Linked DNA regions of Homo sapiens: all the other regions are linked to region 2. Evidence: fine-mapped expression QTL. A gene starts in region 2. Each other region holds a variant in brackets. All regions are shown on one strand. Distances are between the middles of the regions.

What was found.
Region 1: its variant is fine-mapped to the expression of RFX2 in whole blood (TOPMed, PIP above 0.99).
Region 3: its variant is fine-mapped to the expression of RFX2 in whole blood (INTERVAL, PIP 0.95).

The regions. Positions count from the first base shown.
Region 1 is chr19:6,052,661-6,060,840 of GRCh38, forward strand. All of the region lies in intron 1 of RFX2 (regulatory factor X2), which reads right to left. Among named protein-coding and RNA genes, the nearest start is that of RFX2-AS1, 5.8 kb to the right of the region's middle. The variant G/A (reference allele first, on the strand shown) is at 4,627.
Region 2 is chr19:6,106,530-6,114,709 of GRCh38, forward strand. RFX2 (regulatory factor X2) reads right to left here and starts at 3,971. Exons shown (of 18, transcript NM_000635.4): 1 at 3,864-3,971. RefSeq lists an enhancer at 2,485-2,985 and a silencer at 3,833-4,292.
Region 3 is chr19:6,430,550-6,438,729 of GRCh38, forward strand. SLC25A41 (solute carrier family 25 member 41) reads right to left here and starts at 3,214. Exons shown (of 7, transcript NM_173637.4): 1 at 2,938-3,214; 2 at 1,500-1,655. The coding sequence starts at 3,144. It also overlaps a transcript of SLC25A23 not described here. The variant A/T (reference allele first, on the strand shown) is at 4,272.

The DNA of each region.
Region 1 (8,180 bases), 54 kb before region 2:
CATTTCAAAATACCATAATTATACAGAGCATGTATGCACTTTGACCACAGTGGAGTAAATTAGAAATCAGTAAGAAGGTTAGAAAAATGCCAAATATTTAGAAAACTTAAAATACACCTTCAAAATAATCCATGGGTCAAATAATAAACCCCAAAGAAAAATAGAAAATATTTTGAACTGAATTATAATGTAAACACTTTGTATCAAAATTTGTGGGCACTGGTACAAATATTGTGGGTGAAAAAAAGAAGTAAAATTATTAAGAAAAAAAAGTGGGCACACCTAAAGCAGTGCTTAGAAAGAGATGTTTAGCTTTATATGCTTATGTTAGAAAGATTTAAGAACGTTTTCAACCTTAAAAAGCTATATAGAAAGACAAACAAACTAAACTTAATAGAAAGAAGGAAAAACAATAAAGAACAAAATTAATGAAATTAGAAACTCCACAAACAATGGAGAAAATGAACAAAAGCAATATTTCTTCAAAACTGAAATTTTTTCAGAAGAAGAAAGGAGCTATCAAGCCATGAAAAGACATGGAAGAAATTTAAACACATACTATGAAGTGAAAGAAGCCAGTCTGAAAAGGCTACATACTGTATGATTCTAATTAAACAACATTTTGGAAAAGGCAAAACTATGAAGACAATGAAAAGATCAGTGGTTGCCAGGTATCAGAGAGAGGGATGAGTAGGCAAAGCACAGAGGATTTTTAGGACACTGGAACTGTTCTGTATGGCACTATAATGGTGGACACATGTCATTATACATTTGTCCAAACCATAGAATGTACAACACCAACAGTGAACTCTCGAGGAAACTATGGACTTTGGGTGAAAATGCTGTGTTAATGCAGATTTCATCAACTGTAACAAATGTACAACTCTGGTGGGTGATGGTGATAATGAGGGAAGCTGTGCATGTGTGGAGGTATGGGGTATATGGGAAATCTCTGTATTTTCCTGTCAATTTTGCTGTGAACCTAAAACTGCTCTTTAAAAAAGCAAGTCTTGGCCAGGCATGGTGGCTCATGCCTGTAATCCCAGCACTTTGGGAGGCCGAGGGCGGGTGGATCACCTGAGGTCAGGAGTTTGAGACCAGCCTGGCCAACATGGTGAAACTCTGTCTCTACTAAAAACACAAAAATGAGCCATGTGTAATGGCGGGCACCTGTAATTCCAGCTACTCAGGAGGCTGAGGTGGGAGAATTGCTTGAACCAAGGAGGCAGAGGTTGCAGTGAGCTGAGATTGCACTACTGCACTCCAGCCTGGGTGACAGAGCAAGACTCTATCTCAAAAAAAAAAAAAAAAAAAAAGCAAGTATTTAAAAAAAGTTAATTAACAACTTCTCCTGGAAAGACTGATAAGAAAAGAAAACCCAAATTGCCAATATCAGGAATGAAATGAAATATATCACTAGAGATTCTACAGAAATCAAAATGATAATAGAGAACTATTACAAACAACTTTAGCCCATAAATTCAATAACATATAAAATGAACACTTTTTTAAAAACACAACATAACAAAACTGACACAGATGAAATAAAAAAATGTGAATGTAATACATATAACAAAAAAATTGAATATGTTATTGGAAACTTCCCTACACAGAAAACTTCAGGCACATATAGTTTTACTGGTGAATGCTATCAAATACTGAAAAAGGAATTATTACACAAATGCCATCAGAAAATAAAAAAAGAATACTTCACAACTCATTTTATGAGGTCAGTAAACCCTGACACCAAAACTTAACAAATATATTACAAGGAAAGTGTTTAGACTAATATCTCTTATGCACATATATGCAAAAATAATTTAAAATATTAATAAATCAAATTCAACAATATATAAATAATATAACCCACACTTAGATTATCAATTGATTTTTTTTTCTAATGGAGCCTCAGCTCTTTTCTTCCTCAACTGGATTTTCACAAAGGTGTCAAGGCAATTCAACAGAGAAAGAAGTCTTTTAAACAAATGGTGATGGATCAACAGAATATCCATATTGGGGAAAATAAATGAACCTTGACCCCTACCTCACACCATACATAAAAATGATTTCAAGTTAGAACATGAACTTACTTACACACAAAAGCTAAAACTATAAGACTTCTCAGAGAGAACATAGGAGGTTAGACAAAGGTTTCTTAGAATGCACAAATCAGCATAAAAGAAAAACTTGAGAAATTAGATTTCACCAAAATTTAAAACCTCTGCTCATTAAAAGATTTTGCTAAGAATATGAATAGGTAAGCCACAGCCTGGGAGAAATATTTGCAAAACATGTATCTCATAAAGGGCTTTGATCCTAATATATCTACATCTATATCTATATATATAAACTCCTACAATTCAATATAAGATGACAAATAACTTAAAAAAATGGTACTTCACAAAGCAAGATATACAGATGCCCAAAAGTACATGAATAGTGGTCAGCCTCATTAGTCACTAGGGAAATGCAAATTCAAACTATATCAAGATATCACTAAATACTCACTAGAATGGCTAAACCTGACAAGTCTGACAACATCCAATGTTGTAAGTACATGGAGCAACTAAAACTCTCACACACCCCCATGTGTAGATATGAATGATATGACCACACTGGAAAGAGGTTTGGCAGTTTTCTAGAAAGTTAAACCTGCCCTTTAACCCAGAATTCCTCTTGTAGTTTTTATCCAAGAGACATGAAGACATATCTCTTCAAAAAAATAATAACAACTTGTATAAGCATGTTCATAGCAGCTTTTTGTTTGTTGGTTTTTGTTTTTTGTTTTTGAGACAGGGTCTCCCTCAGGATAAAGTACAGTGGCACAATCACAGCTCACTGCATCCTCAACCTCCCAGGCTCAAGCGATTCTCCCACTTCAGCCTCCTAAGTAGCTGGGACTACAGGCACGCAGCACCATACCCGGCTAATTTTTGTATTTTGGGTAGAGACAGGGTTTCACCATGTTGCCCAGGCTGGTCTCAAACTCCTGGGCTCAAATGATCTGCCCACCTCAGCCTTATTCATAGCAGTTTGATTCAGTCACCAAAAAGTAAAAATAACCCAAATGTTCCTCATCAGGAGAGTGGACGAGAAATTGCAGATTATGATGATTTAAAGATTCATATTGAAAACCCTAAAACAACCACTAAAAATGGAAAAGAAGAGCATAGCTAAAAAGCTAATAGAGGAATACTACTGGAATACTCTTCATGAATAGAAAGGAATTAATTACTGAAATTCACAATGCATGGATGAATCTCAAAATCATTACGCTGAGTGAAAGAAGTTGAGTCCAAAAGAGTAGATGAGTAGAGTGGATTAAAACTAAAGTTAAAAAAAAATCATAATAGTGGGTGGGGGGGCAGGTGGCGGTGGGCGAGAGTGACTGGAAAGGGACAGGAGGGGACACTCCAGTGAGATGGACGCATTCTGTATGATAATACAGTGTGCGGTTACATGGAGTCGTGATTTGTCAAAATTAGCCAGCTAAGGTTTGTGCACTTACTGTATGTGAATTTTAACAATGACAACGAAGCCTGTAAAAATACAAGGGTGGAGAGGAGGACGGAGAGTGGGTACAGGTATCCAGGTGTTATAAGAATGGCAGGACCCTGACACCCTGTAGAGGGTGGTGGCTTCATAAGTTTCATTGCATTGTGTATTTACTTTGTGGATGTTTGAAATTTCCATGATAAGGAGTTAAACAAACACACACACAAGACACCAGCGATGAGCAGGAGTGGCTCATGATCCTGGCGGTGCTTCCAGGTAAGCGCAGTAGCTCACATGGTCCTCCCAGAAGGGGTGATGCTGGATCCTGAGTAACTCCTCCACCTGGCAGAGGAGAGCGCAGCAGAGAGTGGGCAGAGGGCAGGGCCCCGAGGGCGTGGGTGTACTCAAGGTAAAGTCCACAGGGCACAGGGACGCACACTGTGGAGCACCTTTGCAGCACCCAGTTTGGGAACCCCTCAATCCAGTGCAAGACAGTAGATGTGAGTGAGTGGAGGCCATGCTTCTTCTCTGAACCTGAATCTGCTGTGGGAACTTGGACCCATTCAGTGACTGCCCTGCCGTCCTTGCTTTCTCGCGTTCCTTTGTCCTCTCTTCTGTTTTTCTTCCTGTGGCGAGGACCTGGGCAGTCTTACTTTGACTGCCTTCCCCTGTGTCCTCTTAGACTGGGTTACAGGAGCCTCGGAACAGCCAATATAAAGGGGAGGGGCCGCAACACGACCTGTCACCCAGCCTGGCCCTGCCTGGCCAACGGGCTTGGCTGGCCCAAAGCTCCCTCCCTCGTGCCTCAGAAATATGCCCGGAGTGCTGTTTATAAGCTGAGCACGTTTCATTTACCATCTGGTCCAAGATCAGGGCGGGCATGAAATAAAGGGGAAAAGCACAGAACCAGCGGCGCAATTTCCCCTCCTTGGCCGGCACCAGCCTTTGGAATCCACGAAACGCTCATTTGACCTTGAACGAACATTCAAGTGAACCAGATGCGCACTTGACCTTTTGGAGCCACTGCTGAGTCAAACGCGCCAGTGGGAACATCTCCCGTGGCTTCCTGACTTCATGTGAGGGGGCACAGGAGAGACGCAGCTAGAAGCAGCCCTGGACTACGGCCGTGAT[G/A]AATGAATCTGCCTGGGCACAAAGGGAAGAGGCTTCTGTTTACAGAAAAATACTCCCATCACCTAGTAACCAGCAATGTCAGGAAAGGAAATGCAGAAAACGCTGAGAGCAATTTCTGGGCCCGTTCCTGGCTGAGCCGCTGACTCACTGCGACCTTAAGCAATCTCTCTTCTATTCCTGTTCCTCCATATGCCAAATGGAGCTGTCACCTGCCTCACATAGTTCAGATCAGTATTTAGACAATGTTTTGTCATCTTTGGTGATAATTGGGGCAGAGTTAGCTGAGTGGTTTTAGTTACCTTCATTCTGATTGGCTGATGAGCCTCGGTGTTTGGGAGGCACGTGGCCTCCTCCGGCCATCAGCTCCTCCTCTCCTGGTACTCGCTGGCCTCCAGATGGTACCAGAGTTCATCTGCCCTAAGAAAGCAATTAATTTCCTCCCTCTGAACAAGAAGGAACAAGCCCGGAGTGCTCTCAGGAGTACCAGTTGCTTCAAAGCCCAGATTCTGTCCTGGTAGCTTGTCTTAACACTCCCAGTGTCATTAGGCTGCCCAGAAAAGTCTTGTCCGTTTCCTTCTCCCGGCTCCCCTCTGAGGGCCAGGTCCTCGGAGTAAGTGATGCGTGTTTTAAGATTCTGTCCTCACTGTTCAGGCTTGTGTGGCCTGGCCCCACGCACAGGGAGGACACCTCCAAGCCATCTCCTTGCCGAAAAGTGGATTCTCGAACCCTCCTTGATGGTGGAACCATGTCCTTTCTGGCACCAGGATTACTCCCTGTGGACCCAGTTGGTTCTCAGTGCCAAGAGTTATTACTCTGCCCTGATAATCACCAAAGATGACAGTGTGTGTCCCCACTTGGCACTGTGGACATTGGGGACGGATCCATCTCTGGGCTGGGGCCGTCCTGAGCACTGCAGGGTGCTGAGCAGCATCCCTGGCCTCCGCTCACTCCATGCCAAGAGCACCCCCAGTTGTGACAACCACAGATGTTCCCAGACATTGCCCAGTGTCCCCTGGGGCGCAGAAGGACCTCTGTTCAAAATGGATTTGTGATGTCTAAGAAGGGGTCTGGACAAACAGCCCCCGAGTAAAACAGGCCTGTAGACAGGGTGAGAACAGGAAGATGAAAAAGGAGAGTAGGCAGGATGCAAAATCATGACAATTCAGCCAGGCAAGGAGTGTGAAATAAATGAACAGGACCCTCTGAAGGCTACCCACACATTCCAGAGCAGCAGGCTTCAATGCACACCAAGGGCAACCATCGTTCCCTCCGTGCCTAAGCCACGGGGGTGCCCGTCATTCCTCACTTTTGGGTTTTTTTTTTTTCTCCTCTTGTAGCAATGGGCTTTCAAGGACTGGAGCTGGCTCCGAGCTTCTCTGAAATCAAGTATCTTCAGAATTCAAATTCCTTTTTCTTTTCGTAAGAATTGGGCTTCTGTTCCTGTTTTCTTCTCAGGAGCCAAACTTTCCCTCCTTTCTCTAGAAAAGGATCAGAACCAAGCCCTTGACAACTGGCCTGAGAAAGGGCTGTTTGCAGACTGGAAGGGGGATGGGGGAGTGCAGACACCCAGTAGGCCCTTAAGTCGCAGGTTCTAATCTTCAGAGGCTGAGAGCAGGCTGCGCTGACAAGGCCTCCCCTAAGCCAGGGACCCCCGTCTTAACAGTGGAAACACCCGTTCCTTCCCCTTTAGAAACCTGACTTTTTTTTTTTTCAGACAGAGTCTTGCTCTGTCACCCAGACTAGAGTGCAGTGATGCGATCATAGTTCACTACAGCCTCGACCTCCCTGGCTCAAGTGACCCTCCCGCCTTAGCCAACCGAGTAGCTGGAACTATAGGTGAGCACCAGCACGCCCGGCTAATTTTTAATTTTTTGTAGAGACAGGGGTCTTGCTATGTTGCCCAGAATGATCTCGAACTCCTGGACTGAAGCAATCCTCCCACCTCGGCCTCCCAAAGTGCTGGGATTACAGGTGTGAGCCATCACGCCTGGCCTTGATTTGACTATTAATATAAAAATTGTCCAAACTAAAGTATGGTTACCTCATCTCTGATGTGGTCTGATTTTAACTGCCATCAATAATATACCAAATTCAGGGTGAATTTTGAATTAAAAAACCACCAAGTCTTCATGACACTTTCACCCAGCAAATACTCTTTTGGCAGGCAACCTGATTCCACTGCTTCTAGCAATAACTTCAACACCACAAAACTTGGTTTCTAGGAAATGGAAATTCTCCTTAGGTTATGGGGTGCCCTAAAGTCCAACACATTGGAGTGAAAGGTAACTGGATACCAAGCTAGAGGCCGAGCAGCAGCTGGTGCTCTGTCCCCCAGGAGTGGATATCTGTCCCCCAGGAGTGGACATGAGAGTGTCACACACACACAGACGCATGTATACACTCCCCACGTATGCATATACACAAATATACATGGACATACACATATACACAAACACACACACACAAACACATGTACATACATGTATACACAAAAGTACACATGCAGACACACATACATGCACACACATACACCACCTGACGCAGGATAATATGAGAAGAATGGCCAAAACCACTCAGAAGACACGTCATTTTCTTACTCCATACATTTTTCTATTAAATTGAATGTTGACTCCTCCCACTAGACAAAAACAACGATTCTTGTAGTAAAAAGTGATGGGGGGGAGCCTGTGTTCACACATCCACACACATGCCTTTGGGAGAAAGCCTCAAAGTACATTTTTTTCTCTGTACTTTTCTCCTTGCAAGATTCCATTCTAAAATTGCAACTCTTTTGTCCCCCTTTTCTGACACCGCCTCTGCACCTCCTGGCTCTCAGCCATGCCCCTGCCATGCTGTCTCTTCCACTTCCTTCTACCCCACAACTCCTTCCCTGTGCTGACCTCCCCCCACTATCTCACATCCAGACTGTCTACATCCAGTTCCTTGCATCTTCAACTCCCATTTTCCCATTATCTATGATGGCTTTTGTGCTCCAACAGCAGAGGCGAGGAGCTGAGACAGACCCCAGCAGAAGCCTAAAATATGTACTCTCTGGTCCTTTACAGGAAAAGGCTGCTGGCCCCCTTCCTGAAGGTTCTAGAGCCTTCCGTCTCCCTCCAAGGACCCACCGATCAAGCCTGCAATCTGGCTTCTGCACAGGCTCCATTCTTTCAGCTTATAGACAAGCTCACATCACACCCATTTGAGGAGAACATCCACTGCCACTGAAACCCTGCTCTTTATCCTTTATCTTCTCTTGAGATATGGATTCTTTTTTATTTGTAAGTCCAGACTCTCAGGAGGGAGCCTCTGTCGTCTTCTCTCTGCATTCTCATGTCTGCCCACTGTTCTTCTTGAGGTCCTCACGGGGCAGTTTTCGGGCCTCCTCTGAACTTGTACTCTCTGCAGTGTTTCGTGTCGCTCCTCGAAGCTCTGTCCTCCCTCGTGTCTGGGTGCTGTTGTCATCTGGTTTCATTTTTCCCCCTAATGATACCTTCTCAGTCCCCTGCACTGGTCCCTGCTTGTCTCCCACCCTCGGCCTCCACCCTTGTGCC
Region 2 (8,180 bases):
TTCTCTTCCCCACTTCGGGTGAATATTCATATAGTTCAGTTCAGAAATACGGCTGTGTTTAGTGGGAATGCCCTGGACCCATAGTTTCAGAGACAGGCCCACAGACTCGCATTCTCCTCCCCTGCAGTTTAGTGAGTGTCCTGACAAGCAAGATGAGAACTTCCCTTGGTTTTTCAAAAGTTTCCTATTTTACAAGTAAGTGGGTACCTATGGGGGTATACTGTTTAAATGTTTGTAAATATTTAAATATATTTGTTTTATATTTAACATATATTTATATTTAAATTTTATTATATTTAAATATATAAGTATATATTATATATACATGTTTTAATATTTCAATATATATTTTAAAAATATTTAAATATTTAATAAATAGATGTCAACTTTAGAAACAAATATATATTATAAGATGTGGTTCCTTCTGGCCCCAGCATTTTATGAGCAAAACAATCACTAGCTACTATAAAAATCCACAGGTGCCGGCCGGGCGCGGTGGCTCACGCCTATAATCCCAGCACTTTGGGAGGCCAAGGTGGGCGGATCACATGGTCAGGAGATCGAGACCATCCTGGCTAACACAGTGAAACCCCGTCTCTACTAAAAAATACGAAAAATTAGCCGGGCGTGGTGGCAGGCGCCTGTAGTCCCAGCTATTCGGGAGGCTGAGGCAGGAGAATGGTGTAAACCTCGGGGGTGGAGCTTGCAGTGAGCCGAGATGGTGCCACTGCACTCCAGCCTGGGAGACAGAGCAAGACTCTGTCTCAAACAAACAAACAAACAAACAAAAATCCACAGGTGCAGGGGCCGGGTTTGGTGGCTTACGCCTGTAATCCCAGCACTTTGGGAGGCCAAGGCGGTTGGATCATTTGAGGTCAAGAGTTTGAGACTAGCCTGGCCAACATAGTGAAACCCCATCCCTACTAAAAATACAAAAATTAGCCGGGTGTGGGGGTGCATGCCTGTAATCCCAGCTATTCAGGAGGCTGAGACAGGTGAATCCCTTGAGCCTGGGAGGTGCATGTTAAGGTGAGCTGAGATCTTGCCACTGCACTCCAGTCTGGGTGACAGAGTGAGACCCTGTCTCAAAAAAAAAAAAAAAAAAAAAAAAAAAATCCACAGGTGCATTTAAAATTTTGACTCGATTATAATATTAAAGTTAAGCCAATTTAATATTTTTATTAATTATAATGCTAATGTAAAACTAAACAATTAGATCTAAGGAATAAGACCCAGATAAACAATTCCCCAGCACCTGCATTTCTGGTGGACAGAACCATCCTTAGCAGTACTTCAATGATAAACAATGTTAAAAGATGAGTATTTACATTTAAATATACATCACATACACATTATATTATATTGTTGTATTTAAATATACATCACACATACATTAAGGTAATGCGTGCCCTTCACGCAGAAAGCAAAGATCAAGTGATTTCAAAGAACTTGTCCTGTTATTGAGGTAATAACTGTCTCTCTCTTCTCAGATTCAGTGGTTTATAAGAAAGAACTTAAAAAACTAAAATATTTCAGTATTGCTTTTCCTGCAGGAGCAAACTATTTCAGAACTCATTCCCAACCCAAGTCCGTTGAACTGTCACAGAATCACAGAACAGTGATCTTTCCCATCATACATTATAAGTTGCCTTCCGTACCACGCCTGTTGATGAAGAAGCCCTAGTAATTCAAGAACTTAAATTCTTTTCCTAGGGAGGTTACCATAAACTCTTACTTCTCTGGTCAGAGTAGGTGAGTTGTCGTTTCTAAGGTTATTTTAGAGTCAGTTCAAGTCTTTAAACTAGAGCAGGAGAAAGCACAGATGCCCCCCTCCTCCTTATCCAGAAGGACGGGAGGTAAGGATCTTTCCATAAGCAAACAATGTTTCAGGGCACGATGTAAAAAGATAAAATACATGTCAACAATATGTACAGGCAAAAATTTTTTTAAAAAGTCTTTGTTGTTTTGTGTCATTATTATTATTACTGTTACTTTGTTGGGGAACTCTTAGTTGAAACAGAGAATGAAGCTTGTACAAGGTTTGATACAGAGATGAAGCTGACTGAGAGGGAAAAGAACTCATCGAAGCCTGCGCTGGTCATTTATGATACAAAGCAGGAAAATAATTGCAGGGAGGCACAATGCTAACAACACCCCAAAGTAGGAATGAAGCCTGGGGGGGCGGGGGTAAGGCAGCCAGCCCTGGGTCCCGAGCTCCATCTTGCCCTCTCCCCTCCCCATTCTTGCCGCACAACCAGGAGGTTAAAATAGGAAGATGAACCGCGCCGGCAGCCGCCAGAATGGCCCGGGCGCTTGGGGCCCTCGGGGGCCCTTGAAATAGCCACTAGGATCGGGAAATCCAACTTTCCCAGCGGTGCAGCGAGGAAAACCAAAAGGAACGGAGCCGGAGGCTGGTGGCGAGGGAGCGCGGAGGCTTCTCGGAGGGAGGAAAAAGAAAGAAATGAGCATTTGGGGTGTGAGTGAGTGTGTGTGTGTGAGTGTGTGTGTGCGCCCGCGAGCGCGCTGGTGGGCGGTGGGGGCAGGGGGTGGAGTTTAAATCCACAAACACACACACGCACTCGCACTACCTCGGAGAAAATGCCTGGAGCAGTTTAGGTTCTTTAACAAAATAAATAAATTGAAAAAAAAAAAAAGTTTCACTCGCGTTGGTGAAACTTTTCTCCCTTCCAGATCAGTCCTAAGAGGAGAGCTGCGGACGTGCGGAGGGGCATCTTGGGGGCACGTGGAAAGACTGGCGGACGCACGAACCCCTATACTCAGGAATATGGGGTCACAGGGAGAAGGGGAGGGGGTGTCCGAGGCGACCTGAACGCGAGGATTTGGGGCAAAAAGGTGAGAAACAGTTCCCGGGGAAGCTCGCTCGGGGAGTTTGGGATGAAAAGGTGAGAAGGGCAAGAGGGGTTCTCCCCAGGGCAGACGCACCAGCTTTTAGTTAAGGAATGAGAAAAAGGTTCCAGGGGTGCCCCCAAATTCAGTATGTCTGGGAGTCCATTAAAAAGGGGGTCCCCGGGACAAGTCAGATCTAGGAATTTGGGGTAAAAATGAGAAGGGAGTCTTCGAGGTCCCCCCGATGCAAGAAGTTTGCGACTAAGAGTGACAGAAGGGCTCTGGGGTCACCCCAATTTCGGAGGTTTGGGGAGTAAAGTAAGAAGAGGGCCCCAGGTGGCCCCAATTCAGGGAGTTTGAGGGTATGAGTAAAAGAGGGGTCCCCGGGTGTCCCCATCTCAGAGATCTGGGGAGTAAAAGTGAGGAGAGGGTCCCCAAGCGCCCCCAATTCAGAGAATTCGAGGGTTTGAGTAAAAGAAGGGTCCCTGGGTGCCCCCAACTCAGAGATCTGGGGAGTAAACGTGAGAAGAGGGTCCCCTGGCGCCCCCAATTCAGAAAATTCGAGGGTATGAGTAAAAGAGGGGTCCTTGGGTGCCCCCAACTCAGAGATCTAGGGGGTTAAGGTGAGAAGAGGGTCCCCAAGCGCCCCCAATTCAGGGAGTTTGAGGAGTTTGAGAGACGTTCCCGGGGCGCCCCCAACTCAGCGAGTTTGAAGGTAAGCGTGAGAAAGGGGTCCCCGGACGCCCCAACCTCAGGAAGTTTTGTAAAAAGTGAGGCGACGGCACCGCACCTCCCCCGCGTTCAGTCAATAAGGAAAGTGGGGACGTCGCCAGGGTCCCCCCAAACTCCGCCGCGCGCGCGGACGGGGTGGCGGAGGCGGGTCCCGCGGGCGCACCACCCGGACGTTTGGGGTGAGCGGCGGGGACGTGCTGCCCGCCCCCCGGCCCCCGAACGGGGTCCCCGCCGCCCCCCACACTCCCCGGCCGGGCTGGGCCCGGGGCGGTCGCATCGGTCACCTGGAGTTCGGGCCGGGAGTTCGGGCAGCGGCTCCCGCGGCGGCGGCAGCGGCTGCTGCGTGTTGGTCCCCGTTGGTAAGTAACAGTCTCCACGGCTACAGTCTCTATGGCGGCGGCGGTGGCGGCGGCGGCCGCTCCTCCTCCGGCTCCCGCCGCCAGCCAGCCTCGCGCAGCCCGCCCGCCCGACGGGGCGGGGCGTTGTTACCGGCAACGGTTACCAGGCTCCGCGCCCCACCTTCCTAACGGCCCGCCCACGCTCGCCTCCAACGGGCCCCCAAGAGGGCGGGGCGCGAGACCCTACGGCGTTCCATTGGCTGTCTGCAGAGTCTGTCGGAAGGAGGAGGCGTTCCCCCTTGAAAAAGAGTGCGAGACTCGGCCAATGGCCGCGAAGAGGGGCGGGTCTTGGCGGGAGGCGCGCGCGGCTCAGAGGGTTGGCGAACCGGTCGCGCGCGCGGCGCCGTGGGTTGGTGGCGCGTTTTGGGAAAGTCCAGTTTTAGGGGACCCAAGGGACTCCGTTTACCCCACAGGAGGAGTGTGGGACATGTGGGAACAGTCTGATCAGGGGTCAGCAAACTCTCGCTCGCCGCCTGTTTTTCACGGACCCCCAGCTGAAAATTTAAATATATATATATTTTTTACATGGTTAAAAGAAACTATCGGCCGGGCGCGGTGGCTCACGCCTGTAATCCCAGCACTTTGGGAGGCTAAGGCGGGTGGATCACGGAGTCAGGAGATCGAGACCATCCTGACTAACACGGTGAAACCCCGTCTCTACTAAAAATACAAAAAATTAGCCGGGCGTGGTGGCAGGCGCCTGTAGTCCCAGCTACTTGGGAGGCTGAGGCAGGAGAATGGTGCGAACCTGGGAGGCGGAGCTTGCAGTGAGCCGAGATCGCACCACTGCACTCCAGCCTGGGCGACAGAGCGAGACTCCGTCTCAAAAAAAAAAAAAAGAAAGAAAGAAAAAAAAAGAAACTATCAAAAGGAGCTTTTGTGGGGTGTGAACCTGATAGGAGACTCTCTTTTATTGTATTGGGCCCAGTATTTTGAACTAGTTTAAAGATTGGCAAACTGCGGCCTGCGGGTCAAATTCTGCCTGCTTGGGTTTGTAAATAAAGCTTTATTGGAACATAGCCACGCCCATTTCCTTGAACAGCTTGGAAGGCTGCTTTGACACTACAGGGGCGGAGTGGAGTAGTTGCGCAAAGACGGCATGTCCCACGCGAAGCCTAAGATATTTACTATACGGTCCTTTACAGAAAATGTTTGCCAAACTCACCAGCCCTCCTCTCAAGCTGGTAGATTCAGCTACGAGTAGGACAGAAACAGACAGATCCTCATAGAACTTTTATTCTAGTGAGGGAACATTGACAGCAAACAGAATAAAGAGGTAAACATATAGTTATTCGAGACAAGGGGCTGGAAGAATAGGAGAAAACAACTTGTACTGAGAAAAGGCAGGAGATTAGGCTTCAGCCCCACTCATTCATTCAACAAGAAATCATATTAGTGAGCACTGATTAAATTGCTATGTGCCTGAAAGTGATCTAAGCATTTTTTAAATATGCAAACTCATTAAATCTTACAATCGCATCTTTAGAAAGATGCTAGGCATTATCCCCGTTTTTATTTGTTTTGTTTTTTCTTTTTTTTTTTTTGAGACAGAGTCTCTCTCTGTCACCCAGACTGGAGTGCAGTGGTGCGATCTGGCTCGCTCACTGCAACCTCTGTCTCCCGGGTTCAAGTGATTCTCCTGCCTCAGCCTCTCAAGTAGCTGGGACTACAGGCGCCCGCCACCACGCTCAGCTAATTTTTGTATTTTTAGTAGAGACGGGGTTTCACCATGTTGGCCAGGCTGGCCTGGAACTCCTGACCTCAAGTGATCCGCCCGCCTTGGACTCTCAAAGTGCTAGGATTACAGGCATGAGCCACCATGCCCGGCCTTTCCCCATTTTTCAGATCAGGAAGCTGAGGCCCAGAAAGAATGAGTGAATTTGCCCAGTGTCAAACAGCTTGTGAGGGATCGGAACCCTAGTAGTCTAGTGCCAAAGTCCATGCTCTTGATCACTAGATGGGTGGTTTTCAAACATTTTTGACCACAGCATACAGCAGGAAATACATTTTACCTAGGGGCTCAGTCCACACAAACATATCTATAACTAAAACAAATGATACTGTAACTAAAGTACCGTGAAATGATACTTTAACGCACTCTGATATTTCCTGTTCTGTTTCATTTTAATTAAAATGTTGACGGTGATTTGCTAAATTGATTTCATCATCTTCTAATTTTTTTTTTTTTCTTGAGACAGAGTCTCTGTCGCCCAGGCTGGAGTGCAGTGGCATGATCTCGGCTCACTGCAACCTCCGCCTCCCGAGTTCAAGTGATTCTCCTGTTTCAGTCTCCCGAGTAGCTGGCGTTACAGGCACGCGCCACCACGCCTGGCTAATTTTTGTATTTTTAGTAGAGACGGGGTTTCACCGTGTTGGCCAGGCTGGTCTCAAACTCCTGATCTCAAGTGATCCACCCGCCTCAGCCTCCCAAAGTCCTGGGATTACAGGCAGGAGCCACTGCGCCTGGCCATGTGACAGATTCTTAAGCTCAAGTGGTCTACAGTAATCAGTCCCTTTCATTCAATTATTAATTTAGTCAAAAATATTTATTGAGGTCCAAGTGCAGTGACTCAGCAGGAGGATCGTCTGAGGCCAGGGGTTCAAGACCAGCCTGGGCAACATAGTGAGACCTTATCTCTATAAAAATAAAATAAATTAGCCAGGCGCAGTGGTGCACACCTATAGTCCCAGCTGCTCAGGAGGCTGAGGTGGGAGGATCGCTTGAGCCCAGGAGTTCTAGGCTGTGGTGAGCTATGACTGTGCCTCTGAACTCCAGCTTGGTAGACAGAGCAAGAACCTGTCTCTAATATATATATATATACATTTATATATATACACACACATATATACACACACATATATGTGTGTATATATATAGTATATGATGATAGATAGATAGGTAGATAGATAGATAGATAGATAGATAGATAGATAGCGCCTACTATTTGCTAGGTGCTAGGGACACAGGTGTAAATAAAATAGATAAAATTCCCATGGCCATAGGAAAAGTGATACAGTAGTGGCTTGGTGGGAGAAGTGGGTGGGTGGGGCTTACCTTAGATAGAGCAGCCAGAGATGATCTCCCTGGGATATCCAACAATCCTGCTTGGCCCAAGACTAAGGGGTTTCCCAGGATATGGGAATTTCAGTGCTAAAACCGGGAAATCCCCAAAGCGGGAAGAGTTGGTCACCCTGGGTCTCTCTAAGGAGCTGACATTTGAGGCAACGTTGGAGTAACGAGGAACAAAGGAAAATAGTTTGGAATTCGAAATCCCTGGGGTGAAAGCTGATGTGGAAGAAACAGAAAGCAGGTCCTTGGGCACAGCTGGAGCCAATGAAAGGGGAAGAGCAGTGAGTGGGTGGGGTGAGTGAGTCAGGGGATGATATGATGGCCATCATTTTATTGGAGGCCGTAGGGAAGAAGTCACGATCAGACTGGGAAACCAATGGAGGGTGTCTTTTGTTGTTGTTGTTGTTGTTTGTTTTTGAGCTGGAGTCTTGCTGTATCGCCCAGGCCCACGCTGGAGTGCAGTGGTGCGATCTCAAGTTGTAGCCTCGGGGAGTAAGGTGACCGCCTGTCCTGGAACTGCTGGTCAACCCGTTTAGCTAAGCTAGACCTCTTCCCGCTCCCAGCCCTGGCCAGAGGCGGAAACTGTGGCCCCAGTTATCTCAAAAGACAAGCACAGAGTAGCAAAAGACAAGCCAACAGGTGGCAAATTCTTAGAGTCCTGCTTTTGTGCGGCACATTTTTGTAAATTAAGGTGACATTTACATACCATAAAATGAGCCATTTTAAAAGGAAACAGTTCAGTGGCATTTAGTACATTCACTATGTTGTACAACCACCACCTATATCTAATTCCAAAGCATTTTCTTTTTTAATTTGTTTTTTTTTTTATGATGGAGTCGCCTGTCACCCAGGCTGGAGTGCAGTGGCACGATCTCACCTCACTACAACCTTCGCCTCCTGGATTCAAGCGATTCTCTTGCCTCAGCCTCCCGAGTAGCTGGGATTACAGGTGCACGCCACCATGCCCAGCTAATTTTTGTATTTTTAGTAGACATGGGGTTTCACCATGTTGGTCAGGCTGGTCTCAAACTCTTGACTTCAAGTGATCCGGCCCCCTTGGCCTCCCAAAGTGCTGGGATTACAGGCGTAAGCCACCTTGCCCGGCCCCCATGGAGGGTTTTAAGCAGGGGTGT
Region 3 (8,180 bases), 320 kb after region 2:
GGATCTCGGCTCACTGCAACCTCCGCCTCCCAGGTTCAGGCGATTCTCCTGCCTCAGCCTCCCGAGTAGCTGGGATTACAGGCTAGTGTCACCACGCCTGGCTTATTTTTGTATTTTTAGTAGAGCTGGGGGTTTGCCATGTTGGCCAGGCTGGTCTGGAACTCCTGACCTCAGGTGATCTGCCCACCTTGGCCCCCCAAATTGCTGGGATTACAGGCATCAGCCACCGCGCCTGGCCTTCTTTTCCTTTTCTTTCTTGTTTTTTTGTTTGTTTATGTTTTCGAGACAGGATCTTGTTCTGTTGCCCAGGCCGGAATGCAGTGGTGCAATCACAGCTCACTGCAGCCCCAAACTCCTGGGCTCAAGTGATCCTCCCACCTCAGCCTTCCAAGTAGCTGGGACTACAGGTGCGTGCTACCATGGCAGGCTAATTTTGTAAAATTTTTTGTATAGATGGGGTCTTACTATGTTGCCCAGGCTGGTCTCAAACTCTTGGGCTCAAGCGATCTTCCCACTTTGGCCTCCCAAAGTGCTGGGATTACAGGTGTGAGTCACCATGCCCGACTCCTTTTTAAATTTTTAATTAATTAATTAATTAATTATTATTTTGTAGAGATGTGGTCTGACTATATTGCCCAGCTGGTCTCAAACTCCTAAGCTCAAGTAATCCTCCCTCCTTGGCCTCCCAAAGTGAGCCACTGCACCCGTTTATTTTTTCAGCCAGGGATCTCGCTCTGTCACCCAGGCTGGAGTTTGTGGCATGATCATGGCTCACTGCAGCCTCCAACTCCTGGGCTCAAGCAATCCTCCTGCCTCAGCCTCCTGAGCAGCTGAGACTATGGGTGTGAGATATCCTGCTTGAGGTAGCTCCAGTTCTATGTTGCCTTTTTTTTTTTTCTTTCTTTTTTGAGACAGAGTCTCACTCTGTTGCCCAGGCTGGAGTGCAGTGATGCAATCTCGGCTCACTGCAACCTCCATCTCCTGGGTTCAAGCAATTCTCCTGCCTCAGCCTCCTATGTAGCTGGGACTACAGGCACGCACCACCATGCCCGACTAATTTTTTTGTATTTTTAGTAGAGACAGGGTTTCGCCATGTTGGCCAGGCTGGTCTCAAACTCCTGACCCCAGATGATCTACCTCCCCTGGGCCTCCCAAAGTGCTGGCATTAGAGGCATGAGCCACTGCACCTGGCCCCTACCTTGTCTTTAAACTCGTCCAAAGACCCCATCCCCAATTCCCTGACCTCCAACCCCCACCTTGGCCCAGCGTTGGTCCCTGTCCCTGGCAAGTTCTCTCAACTCCTCAAACTCGACTCCAAGCCATGTCCACACCAGCTCTATCACCATCCACAACCTCAATCTCAGCTAGTCCAGGAGAGCCCAACTCCAGCCAGCACTCCTATCCTGAACTCCATCCACGTCAACTCCATCTGTCCTCACCCCACGTTCTCCCCAGTGGCTCCAGCGCTGGGTCCCGTCCTCCCCCCAACCCACACAAACCTGCATGTACACCTTGGCTCTGTCCAGAGGTGCCGTGCCCGTGCGAGACACCGCCCCGGCCATAGCTCCTGAGAGTAGAAACTTCCACAAGGCCTCCTTGTTATCCACTTCCAGGACTTCCACGGGGACCATCAGCTGCTCTCCTGTGTCCAGTACCTGCAGGGCAGACCCGGCCCTCCCTCATCCTCAGCCAGGTTGGGGCACCTTCCCCAGACACACATCTAGGGCACCCACCTGGTGAAAGACCCACCCTGTTCCCCCAAGTCTGCATTTTTTTTTTTCGAGACGGAGTCTTGCTCTGCTGCCCAGGTTAGAGTGCAGTGGCACAATCTCAGCTCGTTGCAACCTCCACCTCCCAGGTTCAAGCAGTTCCTGCCGCAGCCTCCTGAGTAGCTGGGATTATAGGCATGCACCACAACACCTAATTTTTTTTTTTTTTTTTTTTTTTTTTTTTAGTAGAGATGGGTTTCACTATGTTGGCCAGGCTGGTCTCTAACTCCTGACCTCAAGTGATTCAACCCTCCCCCCTGGTTTTTTTTTGTTTTGTTTTTGTTTTTTTTTAGACAGAGTCTCACTCTATCGCCCAAGCTGGAGTACAGTGGTGCGATCTTGGCTCACTGCAACCGCTGTCCCCCTGGTTCAAGCGATTCTCGTGTCTCAGCTTCCCAAGTAGGGACAATGGTGTGATCTCGGCTCACTGCAACCTCCGCCTCCTGGGTTCAAGTGATTCTCTTGCCTCAGCCTCCCCAGTAGCTGGGATTACAGTGCCAACGTGCCGAGCAAATTTTTGTATTATTTTAATAGAGGCAGGGTTTCACCATGTTGGCCAGGCTGGTCTTGAACTCCTGACCTCAGGTGATCCACCTGCCTCAGCCTCCCAAAGTGCTGGGATTACAGGTGTGAGCCACCACACCCAGCCAATGTAATATAGACTCTCTAAGTTACTCATGGAGGATCCAAGGAGGAATACAAATGTAATTAGGACTATATCTAGACTCTTAATTTATTCTTATTTTTTGAGACAGAATCTCGCTGTGTTGCTCTGGCTTGAGTGCAGTGATGAGATCTGGGCTCACTGCAACCTCTACCTCCTGAGTTCAAGCGATTCTCCTGCCTCAGCCTCCTGAGTAGCTGGTACTACAGGCGCCAACCACCATGCCTGGCTAAGTTTTGTAATTTTAGTAGAGATAGGGTTTCGGCATGTTGGCCAGGTTGGTCTTGAACTCCTGTCCTCAAGTGACCCATCCACCTCAACCTCCCAAAGTGCTGGGATTACATGTGTGGAGCCATCGCGCCCTGCCTCCCTGCCCCACCCTGCTTCAAGGTGGAATTCTAGGTCCGCTAGCAGGGGAGTGGGCCTGTAGAGGGCGTGGGTAGCCTGGCCTCTCCCTGTAGTCCTGACCAGAGGTGCCGGGACACTGGTGTTTCCTAAACTCACCTGCTGTGACGGGAGATGTTCAAGGTTGTTGTCATGCATGTGGCCAAACGCGTACCCATACACGTGTGTACAGCCAGGGTTCCAGGATGGGGGTGGAGGCGGAGGTTGGGGGGGAGGCGGGGCTTTGATGAGTAAGGTCTTGACCCTCCTAAACAGTGTCTGGATCCTAGAGCAAGTGTTCTGAGGTTCCCCAGGCTGAGCGCCCATGGAGGAAGTTAGGACACCTGGCTTCAAATCCCTAAGCAGTTGTTTGCTGCTCCAGCTACCATGCGGGAGTGTCTAGTGGGAGGATTGTGTGGGGGACCAAGAGGAGGATGAAGTCACAAACGCCCCTGTGACCTTCCTAGGTGTGGTGGGCAGCGTGATGGCCCCCTTCCCCCAAGTATCCACCTCCTGATCCCCCAAACCAATAAATATGTTATCGTTATAAATTGAATTGTGTCCTGTCAAAATTATTATTATTATCGTTTTTTTTGAGACGGAGTCTCGCTCAGTCTCCCAGGCTGGAGTGCAGTGGCGCTATCTTGGCTCACTGCAAGCTCCGCCTCTGGGGTTCACACCATTCTCCTGCCTCAGCCTCCCGAGTAGCTGGGACTACAGGCATCCGCCACCACGCCCAGCTAATTTTTTTATTTTTTAGTAGAGACGGGGTTTCACCGTGTTAGCCAGGATGGTCTCGATCTCCTGACCTCATGATCTGCCCACCTCAGCCTCCCAAAGTGCTGGGATTACAGGCGTGAGCCACTGCTTCCGGCCGCAAAATTCTTATGTTGAAGCCCTATTTCCCAGTGGGTTGGAATTTGGAGACAGGGCCTTTGGGAGGTCCTCAGGGTTAGATGAACTCATGAGGATGGCCCCTGCAAGATGGAATTAGTTCCCTATAAGGAAAAGACAAACCAGAGCTCTTTCTCTCTCTCTGTCTGCCATGGGAGGACGCAGCAAGAAGGCATGGCAGGAAGAAATCCCTCAGCAGGAACTGAGCTAGCCAGCCACCTTAACCTTGGATTTCCCAGCCTCCAGAAATAAATGTCTGCAGTTTAAGACCCCGCTCTTTAGTGTTTCCTTATAGCAGCCTGGGCTGACTTACATTTGTTACATGGCAAAGGGGAATTAAGTTTGCAGATACAAATAAGGTTGCTAGGCCTGATGTGGTGGCTGACGCCTGTAATCCCAGCACTTTGGGAGGCCGAGGTTGGCAGATCATCTGAGGTCAGGAGTTCGAGACCAGCCTGACTAACATAGTGAAACCCAGTCTCTCCTAAAAATACAAAAATTAGCCAGGTTTGGTGGTGTGCCCCTGTAATCTCAGCTACTCTGGAGGCTGAGACAGGAGA[A/T]TTGCTTGAACCCAGGAGACAGAGGTTGCAGTGGGCCGAGATTGAGCCATTGCACTGCAGCCTGGGCAACAGAGCGAGACTCCATCTCAAACAAACAACAACAACAACAAAACTTTGCTAGGCTGGGCGCCGTGGCTCATTCCTATAATAGCAGCACTTTGGGAGGTCAAGGCAGGTGGATCACTTGAGCCCAGGAGTTCAAGACCACCCTGGGCAACATGGCCAGACCCCTGTCTCTATAAAAAATACAAAAATTAGCTGGGCATGGTGGTCCATGCCTGTGGTCCCAGCTACACAGGAGGCTGAGGTGGGAGGGTTGCTTGAGCTTGGGAGGTGGAGGCTGCAGTGAGCTGAGATCTTGCCACTGAACTCCAGCCTGGGTGACAGAGCGAGACCCTGTCTCAAAAAAAAAAAAAAGAAAAAAAAAAAAAGAATTAAGGTTGCTAAACAGCTGATGGGAAATGGTCTCACTCTGTCACCCAGGCTGGAGTATAGTGGCACACTTAAGGTCAATCCCCTTGACCTCTCTGTTCAGGTGGTTCTCCCACTTCAGCCACCCGAGTGGCTAGGAACACAGGTGCGGACACCACGCCCGGCTAAGTTTTAAAAATTATTTTTGGCTGGGCGTGGTGGCTCACACCTGTAATTCTAGCACTTTGGGAGGCCAAGGCAGGTGGATCACCTGAGGTCAGGAGTTTGAGACCAGCCTGGCCAACATGATAAAACCCCGTGTCTACTAAAAATAACGAAAATTAGCTGGGTGTGGTGGTGCATACCTGTAATCCCAGCTACTCAGGAGGCTGAGGCGGGAGGATCACTTGAGTCCAGGAGTTCAAGACCAGCCTGGGCAGCAAAGCAAGAAATTTTTCTACAAAAATTTTTTAAAATTAGCCAGGTGTGGTCATGTGCACCTGTAGTCCCAGCTACTTGGGAGGCTGAAGGGGGAGGCTCCCTTGAGCACAGGAATTAGAGGCTGCAGTGAGCTATGATTGTGCCACTGCACTCCAGCCTGGGTGACAGAGTAAGACCCAGTCTCTAAAAAACAAAAAAAGTAGTCAGGCATGGTGGTGTGTGCCTGTGGTCCCAGCTACTCCGGAGGCTGAGATGGGAGCATCACCTGAGCCTGGGAGTTTGAAGCTGCAGTGAGCCATGATTGCACCCCTGCATTCCAGCCTGGGGAGGGGACAGAGTGAAACCCTGTTTCAAAAACCAAAACCGAAACCAAACAAACAAACAAACAAAAAACCTGACAAAATCATATACATGTAGGTATATATGTATTAGCCAGCTGTTGCCATGTGACGAATTACCCCCCCGCCAAAGGTTGGCAGCTTAACACAACAAACATTTATCATCTCACCCATATTCTGAGCATTAGGAACTCAGGAGCCGCTGAGCCGGCTGTTCCCGTGATCAGTGTTTGAAGTATAAGAGTCTAAGATTCAGGATTCAGGTACTGGGATCCAGTTGTTTCGGTGGAGGGATCCACAAAGCTTGGACTATCCAGGGAATTCAACTGATAGAATTGCAGTGAGATGTTGGCCAGGACAGCAAGATCCTCTTCCAAGCTCAGTTACATGGCTATTGGCTGAGTTCCTTACCACATGGTCCTCTCCATAAGGCTGCTCATGGCATGACCACCGGCTTCCTCCAGAGCAAATGTTATGAGAAAGGGGGAGAGAGAGAGAGAGAGCATGTAACCAATAACCAGGATGGCAGCGACAGTGTCTTTTTTTTTTTTTCTTTGAGACATAGTTTTGCTCTTGTTGCCCAGGCTGGAGTGCAGTGGCACAATCTCGACTCACTGCAACCTCTGCCACCCAGGTTCAAGCAATTCTCCTGCCTCAGCCTCCTGAGTAGCTGGGATTATAGGTGCCCGCCACCACGTCCGGCTAATTTTTGTACTTCTAGTAGAGACGGGGTTGCCATGTTGGCCAGGCTGGTCTCGAACTCCTGACCTCAGGTGATTCACCCGCCTCGGCCTCCCAAAATGCTAGGATTATAGACGTGAGCCACTGCACCCAATCTTTTATTTTTTTATTTTTTGAGATGGAGTCTTGCTCTGTTACCCAGGCTGGAGTGCAATGGACCAATCTTGGCTCACTGCAACCTCCACCTCCTGGGTTCAAGTGATTGTCCTGCCTCAGCCTTCCGAGTAGCTGGGATCACAGGCATGTGACACCATGCCCGGCTAATTTTTGTATTTTTAGTAGAGACGGGGTTTCACCATGTTGGCCAGGCTGGTCTCAAACTCCTGGGCTCAAGTGACCTTGAACTCCTGAGCTCAAGTCATCCTCCCATCTCAGCCTCCTGAGCAGCTGGAACTACAGGTATATGCCATCATGCCCAGCTAATTGAAAAATTTTTTGTAGAAATGGGGTCTCACTGTGTTGCCCAGGCTGGTCTCAAACTCCTGGCCTCAAGCGATCCTCCCACCCCGACCTCCCAAAGTGCTGGGTTTACAGATATGAGCTACCCCACCCACCCTGAATTTTCTATTTTTTCCACAATAAATTTGAATTACTCATTGTGGGTTGAACTTTGTCCCCCAAAAAGATGTGTTCAAGCCCTAACCCCAGTAACCTGCAAATGTGACCTTATTTGGAAATACGGTCTTTGTAGATATAATCAAATTAAAATGAGGTTACACTGGATTGGGGGGGGTTGCCCTAATCCGATGACTGCTGTCCTTACAAGACATGGAATCGGCCAGGCGCAGTGGCTCACGCCTGTAATCCCAACACTTTGGGAGGCTGAGGCAGGCGGATCACGAGGTCAGGAGTTCAAGACCATCCTGGCTAACATGGTGAAACCCCGTCTCTACTAAAAATACAAAAAATTAGCTGGGCATGGTGGCGGGTGCCTGTAGTCCCAGCTACTTGGGAGGCTGAGGCAGGAGAATGGCATGAACCCAGGAGGCGGAGCTTGCAGTGAGCCAAGATCGCGCCAGTGCACTCCAGCCTAGGCGACAGAGCAAGACTCCATCTCAGAAAAAAAAAAAGGCCGGGCGCGGTGGCTCATGCCTATAATCCCAGCACTTTGGGAGGCATCCTGGCTAACATGGTGAAACCCCATCTCTACTAAAAATACAAAAAAAAAAAAAAATTAGCTGGCTGTGGTGGCGGGTGCCTGTAGTCCCAGCTACTTGGGAGGCTGAGGCAAGAGAATGGCATGAACCCGGGAGGCGGAGCTTGCAGTGAGCCGAGATCGTGCCACTGCACTCCAAAAAAAAAAAAAAAAACAAACTTGGAATTTGCACTTTGGGAGGCCGAGGCGGGTGGATCACTTGAGGTCAGGAGTTCAAGACCAGCATAGTGAAACCCCGTCTCTACTAAAAATGCAAAAATTAGCCAGTTGTGGTGGTGTGCACCTGTAATCCCAGCTATTCTGGAGGCTGAGGCAGGAGGATCACTTGAACCCGGGAAGCGGAGGTTGCAGTGAGCTGAGATCACGTCATTGCACTCCAGCCTGGGAAACAGAGCGAAACTGCATCTGAAAAAAAGGATGGAAATTTGGGCAGAGAGACACAGACACACATAAGGGAGCATACAGTATGAAGATAGGCAGGCAGTGGAGTGATGAGTCTATCATAAACCAAGGAACACCAAGGACCATGTGGCTCACACCTGTAATCCCAGCACGTTGGGAGGCTGAAGGCTGGCGAATTCCTTGACCCCACGAGTTCGAGATGAGCCTGGGCAACATGATGAAATCCTATTTCCACAAAAAAGAAGTAATAATAATTAGGCCAGGCACGGTGGCTCACACCTGTAATCCCAGCACTTTGGGAGGCTGAGGTAGGCAAATCACCTGAGGTCAGGAGTTCGAGACCAGCCTGGCCAACACGGGAATACCTGGTCTCTACTAAAAATACAAAAATTAGCCGGGTGTGGTGGTGCGCACCTGTAA